Linked DNA regions of Homo sapiens: region 1 is linked to region 2. Evidence: fine-mapped expression QTL. Tissue or cell type: thyroid. Region 2 holds a variant in brackets; the other region holds the start of a gene. All regions are shown on one strand. Distances are between the middles of the regions.

Evidence for each region. PIP is the estimated chance that this variant, and not a neighbour inherited with it, causes the effect.
Region 1: it holds the start of LINC01512, and the variant in region 2 is fine-mapped to the expression of LINC01512 in thyroid (GTEx, PIP above 0.99).

Annotation. Positions count from the first base shown.
Region 1 is chr6:43,888,479-43,893,629 of GRCh38, reverse strand. It overlaps LINC01512 (long intergenic non-protein coding RNA 1512), which reads right to left and starts at 2,602. Exons shown (of 2, transcript NR_024478.1): 1 at 2,165-2,602. All of the region lies in intron 2 of LOC105375070 (a long non-coding RNA gene), which reads right to left. RefSeq lists an enhancer at 3,182-4,143.
Region 2 is chr6:43,935,777-43,941,088 of GRCh38, reverse strand. It overlaps LINC01512 (long intergenic non-protein coding RNA 1512), which reads right to left. Exons shown (of 2, transcript NR_024478.1): 2 at 2,882-4,725. Among named protein-coding and RNA genes, the nearest start is that of LINC01512, 47 kb to the right of the region's middle. The variant G/A (reference allele first, on the strand shown) is at 2,571.

The sequences.
Region 1 (5,151 bases), 47 kb after region 2:
AAACCTCTGGCCTTAGCTGGTATTTTCTCAGTGCAATACACTGGAAACACTGATTATCTCAGGAACAGTCATCCCTCATTAATAAAATGGGGAAATAGATCAGTGCTTAATAAACGTGGGGTATTTGGTAGACAAAACACAGAACTCAGGCAAGGACACTAATCCTGGAAGTCCTGGGGCTGAGTGGGGTGGAAGCCCCAGACCAAGGACTCTGGAGGATTCTGACTCAGAACTCAGTCTTGGAAGCTGAGGTGCCTGAACAGAGGTCCGCACCTTGCCGTCAGTCTGGAGACCACATGAGACACTCTTTGTTGTCTAAAACAAAGGCGACGCTGGGCCTGGGTGGCCTATGGGGAGCTCCCATGGAACCAGCTGCTGTCCTTGCCTTTTGCTGCTCTCCATTCCTGGAAGCCAAAGGCAGAGCCATGCACTCAGCCCGGTATGAAAATCAGGGAGAGAAATAGATAGCAGTGTCCTGATCCAGCCCCTCTCTCTGCCTCACGTCACCTGCGAGCAGGACCAATCGCCTGTCCCCTGGTCAGGGCCATGAGGGTACATCTGGAATTCCTATAGCATGAGTTCTAACCCAGAAAATTGACTGGAAGCCCCCACGCCCACCCCAGCATAGCCCTGGATCTTCTGAACGTTCTCTGAGAGCCAGCTGTCCCCCAGATATGCGTCTACCACGTGGAGGCTGGGAGGGTAGTCCAGTCACTACGGTTTGGAAGAAAAAGTCTAGAATCTTAGGCTTTAATCTGGACCTGGTCTCTAATAACCTGTGTTTCTGTTACGCTCTGCCTCAATTTCCCCATCTGTAAAATGAAAATGACAGACTGACTCCTGGGCTTCTTACCAGTCTCACTTGCTAACTGATCTTGGACAAGTTACTTGACCTCTTTGAAACTCAAGTTTCTTTGACTATAAAATGGGGATGTGAATCTATGCCCTGCCTTCCTCACTGGGCAGGGTGAGGAGCAAATGCTAGGGTGTCTGCTAAAGTGGTTTGAAATCAGCGGCTCCTCATGACTACAGGAGAGTATTATTATGATCAAGGACATCTGGTTCACCCCACCTGGGCCAGGCCCTGGGGCCAAAAGAGAAAACAAAGATGTGATCTTTCCCTTAGCCACCTTCTGGTCTGCTGGGGCCATGGAAATGACCAGCACCCCATTCCGACAAGGCGGGAGAGCTGAACCCATAGGAGCCGAAAAGATTCAGTAATGGGAGAGAAACCTGACTACTGTAGGAGGCTTCCTGGAGGGATGAATCAACACAGGGAAATGAGGCTTTTTTTCTTTTCTTCTTTTTTTTTTTTTTTTTGAGACAAGAGTTTCACAATTGTCACCCAGGCTGGAGTGCAATGGCACGATCTCGGCTTACTGCAACCTCCACCTCCCATGTTCAAGTGATTCTCCTGCCTCAGCCTCCCGAGTAGCTGGAATTACAGGCGCCTGCCACCACGCCCGGCTAATTTTTTTGTATTTTTAGTAGAGACAGGGTTTCACTATGTTGGCCAGGCTGGTCTCGAACTCCTGACCTCGTGGTCTGCCCGCCTCAGCCTCCCAGTGTTGGGATTACAGGCGTGAGCCACCGCGCCTAGCCCAGAAGGCTTTTTAAAGCAAGCCCCATGGGGTCACTTAGAGAGGGCACCAGCTGCTCCTGACCCACACCAAACCCCCTGTCTCTTTACAGGGCTTTTTCATTAGAACACGTCCTCTCATTTGATATTGAAGATAGCCCAGTTAGTCATTTAGTCGGCAGAGGAGTCCCCCAGCCAAGAAGGCGCAGCAGTGGGTTCCGGACAGGGGCTTTTCCCTGAAATGCAGGTTCAAGAGGCCAGGCGCGGCCCCTCTCAGCACCCCCTCCGCCATGCCTGCCACCCTCCCCTTTTCTCTCCTCGCCCCTCCCCTGCTCCTCTACCTGGAGGAAACACAAATGCAGATGGCTCTTTTGATGTCTCTGGGGATCAAAGGTTTGGCTTTGGAAGAAAGATGTGCTGCTTGAAAGCCACCCAGAGCCTGGTCTGCACAAAAGCCCTTTCCCGTGAGCCCCTCCCGCCCGGCCCTGGGCGCCCGCACCTGACTGGCCTCCTGCCGCCCCCCCCACCCCAGCCTCCCCCCACCATGCGCACACAGCACACAGCAGGGCCGGCGCTCACGCTCACCTGAAGCACGTTCCTCCTCTCTTTTGTTGGATGATTTGTCTGTGAAACATGTTGTCCCCGCTGGGCCAGGCACTGCTATGTCTCAGAACAATGAGAGAGAGAGAAAGACGAAGAAAGAGAGAAAATGACAGAGGCAGCGCGTGAGATGGAGAAACGCTGGAAGAAAGAGAAACAGGTGGACAGAGGGAGAGAGGATGAGCAGACAGGGGACACTCACAGGCGCACAGAGGAGACGCAGGAGGAAAACCCAGCCTTAAGAGGAGCAGAGAAGCAGAAAAGGGAACAGGCAAAGACAAGACGGTGAAGAGGAGATGGATGAGGCATCAAAGGGATGGAGATGTTAAAAGATAGGCCAGAAATGAAGAGGGAAGAATGAGATGGGAAAAGAGGGAAACAGCTGTAGAGACTAGAAAGGAAGGCTTCCTGAGCTAGGTGCACGCAGGGAAGCTGAGCCTCTAGTCGGGGGCGGGCAGGGGGTGGTTCCTGCCATGGCTCTGGGTACCCCTACCCTGCCACTGACAGAGTCCCGGGGGTGGGACCCAGACTCCCCACAGCCCACTCCCTCACTGCTAGCTCCCCCCACCACGAGGTTCTCTCCTCCCGCTCTGAGACCCCACGCCTCCCAACCCAGATGAGACTGCCAGGTGGCCTCCAGACAACGTGGCTGGACAGGGAGGGCCTGGAGTTAGCAGACCTGGAGGAGGGAAGGATCCATGGCAGCTTGGTCAGGAATCCCTGTGTCTCTCTCCACAGAGGAGTGAAGTCTGTGCCCTTCCCCTCCATTAGCCCTGAAAACCCTCCGGGCTGGAAACCAGGGGAATGGGGGCAGGGCAGGAAGGCCCGTTCCTTCCATGCAAGCTCTCTAAGGCACCTTCCTGCTACTGTGTCCTGAGACATCACAACCAATTTCTTCCACCGACCCCCACCTACCTCTTGCCTGGCCCTTCACTGTCTCTAGGGTGGAAAGACCTAGACTTCCTGAAGCCGGGGCCCCTGTGTCCTCTGTCTCCACCCTCTCACCGACTGGCTAGGTGGCCTTCAGCCCATCATTTCTTCCCTCTGAGCCTCGATTTCCTTATCTGTGAAATGGGAAATAAGCACAGTGCCTGCCCCAGAGGCTGGTGTGAGGGTTCAATAAGATTAAGGTGGCCATGTGCCTAACACAGCGCCTGATATGGGCAAAGGAGCAGCTGAGGAGGTCCCCGTCCCAGCCATGGCCATGGCCATATCCACAGCAGTGGTAGTGTCAATGGCTGGCGTGGGATGAGAATTCTGGCCTTGCCCAACTCACGGGGACAGTATGAGGCTTATAAAAGCTAAAGGATGGTAATCCCAGCACTTTGGGAGCCTGAGGCGGGTGGATCGCCTGAGGTCAGGAGTTCGAGACCAGCCTGGCCAACATGGTGAAAACCCGTCTCTACTAAAAATACAAAAAATTACCCGGGCATGGTGGTGCACGCCTGTAATCCTAGCTACTCAGGAGGCTGAGGCAGGAGAATCGCTTGAACCCAGGGGGCAGAGGTTGCAGCGAGCCTCCTGAGATCACTCCACTGCACTCCAGCCTGGACGACAGAGTGAGACTCTGTCTCAAAACAAAACAAAACAAAACAACAACAAAGCTAAAGGATGGGAAAGGCATCCCCGCCAGCAATGCTGAGGCTCAATGCGGACTCCTGCAGCCAGGCCCAGCTGGAGCCCTAGCCATCAGGGCGGCTTCTCCACCAGACACACCAGGCTCAGCCCCAGCCCATGGTACTCCTAGGAGCCCACAAAGTATTCTGAGTTGTTTTAAAATCAGAGGGAAGAAATGATCTTCTAAGTCAACAGAAATGTTTTCATATATAATGTGAATATATTTACCTTTATCCCAACACAACTGTAAAATGTAACTTTTTACTTTTTTAATGGAAAAAGGGGTCCATGACAACAAAAAATGCTTATGGCCCACCAAGTCCTAATGTGGTCCTGTCAGCCACTTCTGCTGGCCAGGGAGGAGCAGGACAAAATGCACTCTTGGTGGCTTTAATAGACACAGCCCTGACCAGAGGGGTGTAAAGCCATCCTGGGATGTGGGGCTGGGGGGTGGCAGGAAGGAGAGACATGGGTGATGGCAGCAGAGACACAACAAATAAGAGATTTTGAGGCCCTGCCCTTGGGTAGGCCTGAGGCCAAAGGGCACATAGTGCCATACCTTAGAGACCCCTAATTTGAGAGAGAAACATATTCTCTCCTTTGGGGAGCCCCTAATCTGAGGCGGGGGGTGCAGCCTGTCCTGAGGGAACCCCAGTCTGAGAGTGGAACACAGCCCTGCTTTCAGGGACTCCCAGTCTGAGAGAGAGAGACATAGCCCTGCTTCTGTGAGCCCACATCTCCAAGAAAAGACAAAATATAAAACTAAAACAAAGCAAGCTACTAGTGGTGGGAGGGTGGAAGACATCAACGCTGTAGTGTAAATAGCTGTATGTCCAACAGAGAAACCTAGAGAGAGTTCCTTCATCGCTGGCGGTGAGAGGGAGGCATCTCAGCAGAGATGGAGCCCCTGGCCATGGGCAGGAAGAGACGTGGGGACAAGCAGCAGGCAGGGACATGTGGCAGAAGGGGATCCTTGCTCTGCCATCAGGGCAAGGGTTTGAATGAAGAAGAGAGGATGGTGGATCTGGGCATGGTGGGGTCTTGATGCCCATTCCTGCCCCTGTATGCCATGCCCATACCTGTGAACTCCAAAGACCACCACTGTCCCTGCGGCTTCTCTGTCAGAGCCGCACAGGGACACAAGAGTCACTCCTGGTGCGGTCAGGTAACCGCACGCCTCAGGTGCCCCCCAGTCAGGCACCCTGCAGAATTAAATTACCGTATTGGAAATAGCAAAGTAAACACCAATAGGTAAAGTGCAAATTAAAGCCGTTCCTCCCAGATACCTTATTTTTAGACCTAAGCTCAGCAGCCGCGCCCTCCTGGGCAAGAGCCACAGGAGCAGAGCAGGGCAC
Region 2 (5,312 bases):
AAACCTACACAGGCATATGCACAAACACACACACACACACACACACACACACACACACATACACACACACACGGAGGGGTGAATGGGCAGGCAGATGTTCATGCATATAAGCACCTACATCCACACACACTCCAGGGGCAGGGCTGCAGGCCTGAGAGGGAGCCCTGGGCTCAGGGGTGGCCTGTTAGATCTTGGCAACCAGAGAGACAGGATGATCTTGGTCTGAGAAGGTCTCACCCTAGCTGGTCCCACCTTTTCCCAGCTCTGTCTCTTCCTCTTCAGGCTGTTTGGCCCCGGGACAGGGGAGACCATCAGCTTTGGCATCGGCTCCGGAAGTTTCTCCCTTTCCTACCTGCCACAGAAGGGCTTTGAGGCCGATAGGGGAGGCTCATGAGGTGTGAGGAGCCTCCATGGTGAAGCTCCCTCCATCCCCTGTCCCCGTAAGACCCTGAATCGTGGTCCCAACACAATGAAGACCAGAACTGGTGCCCGAGGAGCACTCATCTCACCAATGCTTGCTCTTGCTGAGTAGAGTCAGAAAGGCACAGGTCAGACCTGTCAGCCTCAGACATAAACGTCAGACCTGAACTGTCTCCCGAGAGGTGCCTCCCTCCCTGGTTAACTTCAGGGCTGGCTCTCACATCTGTGGTTATTATTCAGACTTGGATAGGGACTAGATGCTGTGGTCCTGGTGCTCTGGGCCAGGAGATGAGGGCATCAGGGGCCTAAGGCCTGGGACACAGGCCTCGTCATCTGGCCCTGCCTCTGCTGTGACCTGAGCTGACCTGGGAACATGTCATTCCACCCCAGCTTCCCCTTCCCCACTTGGATTTTGGGACATATGGGCTACAACCAGCTTTGGGAGCTCTTGGAAGGCTGGGGCCGTGCTATGCCTGACATTGTACACCCAGGGCCAGCACAGTGCCAGGCACACCATAGGTGCTCAACATACACTGAGTGTGCAAATGCACCATATTTGTCCCTAATTACTTTCTTTCTATATATTCAGCTTCTTCCTGCCTTCCTATGTCTCAGATCTTAGACATCTCCCATCACTTCTGAGCCGTGCTTAGGACCCCTAGGGAGGGGCATAACTTGAGCTTCCAAGGCCCATCAGGGTCAAATCCCCAAACAATCCCTGAGATGAGGGCTGTTTCTTACTAGCCTCTCTGGGCCTTGAGGAAACTGAGGCTTGAGACTGACCAGCAGGATATTTGCTTGACTGAAGAAAAATTTCCTCAGAGGGGGCAGGGGAGGCCTTGGGGGTTGGCAGCTCCCTCCTGGTTCATGGTTATTACAGGCATAACCCTGCTCAGGCCTCCCCTAGCGTTGGCCGCCTGCCAACCCCCAGCGCCCACTTCCCCTCCTGGTCTGGGAGCTGCCAGCTCCAGGAGTCGGGTGCTGGACCCATTCAGTGCCCAATGCTGAGGAGGTTTCGGGCCCTGCCTGCCAGAGGCTGCCAGTCTGGCCTGGGAGATGCCCAGTCTCCATAGAGAGAGGGGCCACAGGCATCAGGCCACGCTCAAGAGCGCTGGGATAGGCAGGGCGGGAATCCAAGTCACTTCTCTCCAAGATGGCCAGCTCCGCCCGGGCAGGGAGCTGGTGTGCAGCAAGACTGTCCGGGGCCCTCTGGTGGGGCAAGGGGCAGGGGGTGGGCCTGAGGGGGCGTAGAGAAACACCCCAGTCGCTAGGCTATGAGGTGAGCAGCACTGGGTTTAAGAGTTCAGCCCCTGGCCCAGACCATCTGGGTTTGTATTCAGGTCTGACCCTCAGAAGTTATGAACGGCTCCATGCCCAGGTGCCACCCTCTGCGAGGCGGGAGGGTAACAGCCCTACCTGCTAGAGCTGTTTGGAGAATGAAATAAGTTACTCCACGTGAAACACTTAGAATGGTGCCTGGTACATCATAACCCCTGCAGTCAGTGTTAGATATTATTGTTAGACCAGGGTAAGTTGAAACTCGCCTGAAAGGGGCTTAATTGACTGTCGACATCTGGTTTCCTCCACTGGACACTGAGGTCCCTAGGCCCTTTATGTCTTAGGCCTGGCACGTCTCAGGGACACGAAAATATGTGTTGAAAGGATGGACGCATGAACAAGGGAGTCGGGGGAGCAGGGCATCAAGAGAAGCTCTGGGAAGAGGTGGCCCCAGGGGAGGCCCCCACACAGGAGGGGAAGTGGCGGGAGCTGAGGTGAAGGCAGGGAGGCCTCTGGCTGGGCCCACGTCCACCAGGGCTTCGGGCAGGCTCTTGAGGAGAGGGGTCTTGGGGAGAGGAAGGCTGGAAGGAGACCGAGCTGGCCAGAGCCTACCACACAAGCTGGACAGCCATGTCCCCTGTTCTGGGTCATGAGGGTCTAGGGCCAGGTGAGAGCTGCCACTGAGGAGAGGATGGATGGGAAAGGGCCTGGAGAGGCCCCCGGGGCCGTCAGTGTGAACCCTTCCTCCTCCTGCGCCCAGGCCGGCTATGGAGCCTGGCATTCTGTTGTCGCTGAGAGAAAAACCAGCCTCGCTCCACAGACACGGCAACCAGTGGAGAAACAAGTGTTGGAGATAAGAGGATTTAAAACAA[G/A]TAAACTCCCCTGCAGGAGATGTAAAAGAAAAACAGATTGTGAGCTTTCTCTCTCACCGTTCTTTCTGTGTCTTTCCCTTTCTCTTCTTTCTTTTGCTTCTTCCAACCCTCACTCACTCTCTTCCTTCCTTCCATCCTTCTTTATCTCCCTTCCTCCTTTTTTCCTTTCTTTTTCATCCTATCTTCATGAACAACCAAACCTCCAGATTTTAAAAAACCTACAGCAGCAAAACAAAACACGACAAAACAACAACAAAACAAAACCACACACACACAAGCAAACAAAAAAACCACCTATCATCAAGGTATCATCCTAGTCTGACCACTGAGGGTCTATAGAATGTTTTATTGACCCAAAGATCCCCCAGGGTCAACCTGTCAATTTCTCTTCTTTAAAGTGTCCCATCCTCAAGGAGCCCCAGCCTGAGGGGAGACACAGCCCTGTCCTCAGGGAGCCCCAGTCTTCAGGGAGACACAGCCCCATCCTCAGGGAGCCCCAATCTGCAGGGAGACACAGCCCCACCCTCAGGGACCCCAGCCTAAGGAGAGACACAGCCCTGTCCTTGGGGAACCCCAGTCTGAGGGGAGACACAGCCCCATCCTCAGGGAGCCCCAGCCTGAGTGGAGGACACAACACTGACTAAGGGAGCTGCAGTCTCAGGGAGTAGGTAAATAAATGTACCACAGATATTAGCCTACTTCTTCACTTTGAGAGCAGAGGTGTAGGAGTGTGTGTGTGGGGGGCAGGGCTGCAGAATCTGTATTACAGAGGGGTGAGTGAGAACATGTGGGAAAAGCTGGCATCCCAGAGCTTTCCGAGTTCCCAGGAGCATTCTACCCCTTCTCTGTGCTCAGCCCAACTCTGACCAATAGGAGGGTCACTGGAATCCAGTGTCCCCTTAAGGCAAGGGAGAGTCAGAGCTGAGAAGCAGGCGGCTGGGAGAGGCCCGCTGAGTGGCTCTCTGGAGTCTGTCAGGTGAGTGACCACAGGAGATAAGCTGTCTATGATAAGGGGCATTCAGGCCACCTCATTTTAGCTTGTCCGTGACAAGCTGAGCCTCGCACGGCCCAGAGCATGTGTGTGGTGAGGAGGTGGGGGAGTGGGCACAATTCAGGAGCCGTCTCCAGAGGTCAGCACTAATGGGACAAGAAGTCTTAAGATGCAGCCCCCAGCTCCTGTTTGTCCCTATCCAGGTGGAGACATTTCCATTCCCAGACATAGGAGCTTCTCCCAGGGAACCTCATGAAGACAGAGATGGTGGGGACTGAATGGGGGGGTGTCTCGATTCCCAGCAGCTTCTTGGCTCCTCTGCTGTCACATAATCAGTGAGTGATGACTGGCAGCAGGCACTTCCCTGGGTGCTCTTGACATTCCCGTGACCTACAGGCAAGGGAGAGGGTTCCAGAGAAGGAGGAGTGGGAGCCTCAGGGTGGCAGAGTGGCTGTGGCCTTTCCACAAAAGGAGGATCTCTTCCGGGAACCAGATGATGAGCTTAGCTTGTCTGCAGGCATTAAAACACCAACACTGGGAACATCCTCATGGTATGTAAAGGGAAACTGAGGCACAAGGCAGGGAAGGGACTTGCCTAGGGTCACACAACATTGAGAGTTCCCAATTCTCTTCTCTACTCCAGGCTGTACGAGATCTGCAAAAGTCAAACTTCCACTCTGCCTCCATACTTGTATGTGTGCGTGGGTGCTTGTGGGGCATGCTCGGCAGGCCCAGCAGCTGAGGCCAGGCCCTGGAAGGAGTCCCAAGCTCAGCCCTGTCCAGGCACCCAACCCTCTGGTCAGGCGATGTGACCCACATGGAATGGCCCCCAGACTTCCAGGCGACACTCACTCATCACCTCGTTAGCTGCTTTCCTACTGAGAGTCCACAGGCAGTTCTCCTTCTGGCCTGGCACTCCCCTAGGCCCCGCAAGAGCATCCAAGACATGGCTCAGTTTTCTCCAGTCTTCAGGCACTGTCGAGCTCACAGCAATTTTAGCCACAGCACAATCTGGTTGGGCAGGCAGATTAGCTCTCACGAAAGCCACGTTCAGCCTTTACCAGGCAATGCCACAGAAAAACACTGGGATTTTCTGCAGCTGGACATGGTCCCTGCCCTGTCTTCCCTTCCAGAAGCGGGAGCAGAAGGCATGGGGACAGCCAGCTGTGAGGAGAGAAAGCAAAGATATAAGTCACAATGCCTGAGATGAATTTGGGTAGGAACATGCTTTATGCAAATAGGCACACACATCTACCCCAGGGTGGGGAGGACATGTGCAAATCAAGGCTCCAGAAAGTCCTGACAATGAGGCTCCCTGTTCTAATGAGTGGGACACTAGGATCCCTCAAGTTTGTCTGTGGACTGAACTTGGGTCTTCCTACTATATCTGAGACACAGCCCTCCCATTCTGGCGCCTCCCTTGCCCTTGTGGACCTCCTTCTGCCTGCCTCGTGTGGTCTGGCCCTGGGAAGCCTCCCAAAGGGTCTGGCTTTCCTCTACTTGCCCCAGGCTGCACCTCAAATGCCCTCCAGCTGCTAACCACTGCCCCGTTCAAATGGGAAGGATCTGTGGCTGCCTGTCCCCCACAACTGCAGTCTCTACCTCAAGCTTGGCCTGTCTCCACAAAAGGGGCCAAAAGAGTGGTCTGCCCATCAGAAACACTGCCTCCCCCATGGGCCCTCATGCTGTTCCCAGCAATGCCCAGCATACAGAAGATGCTCAGTAGCAGATGAATGGTGGAATCAACGAAT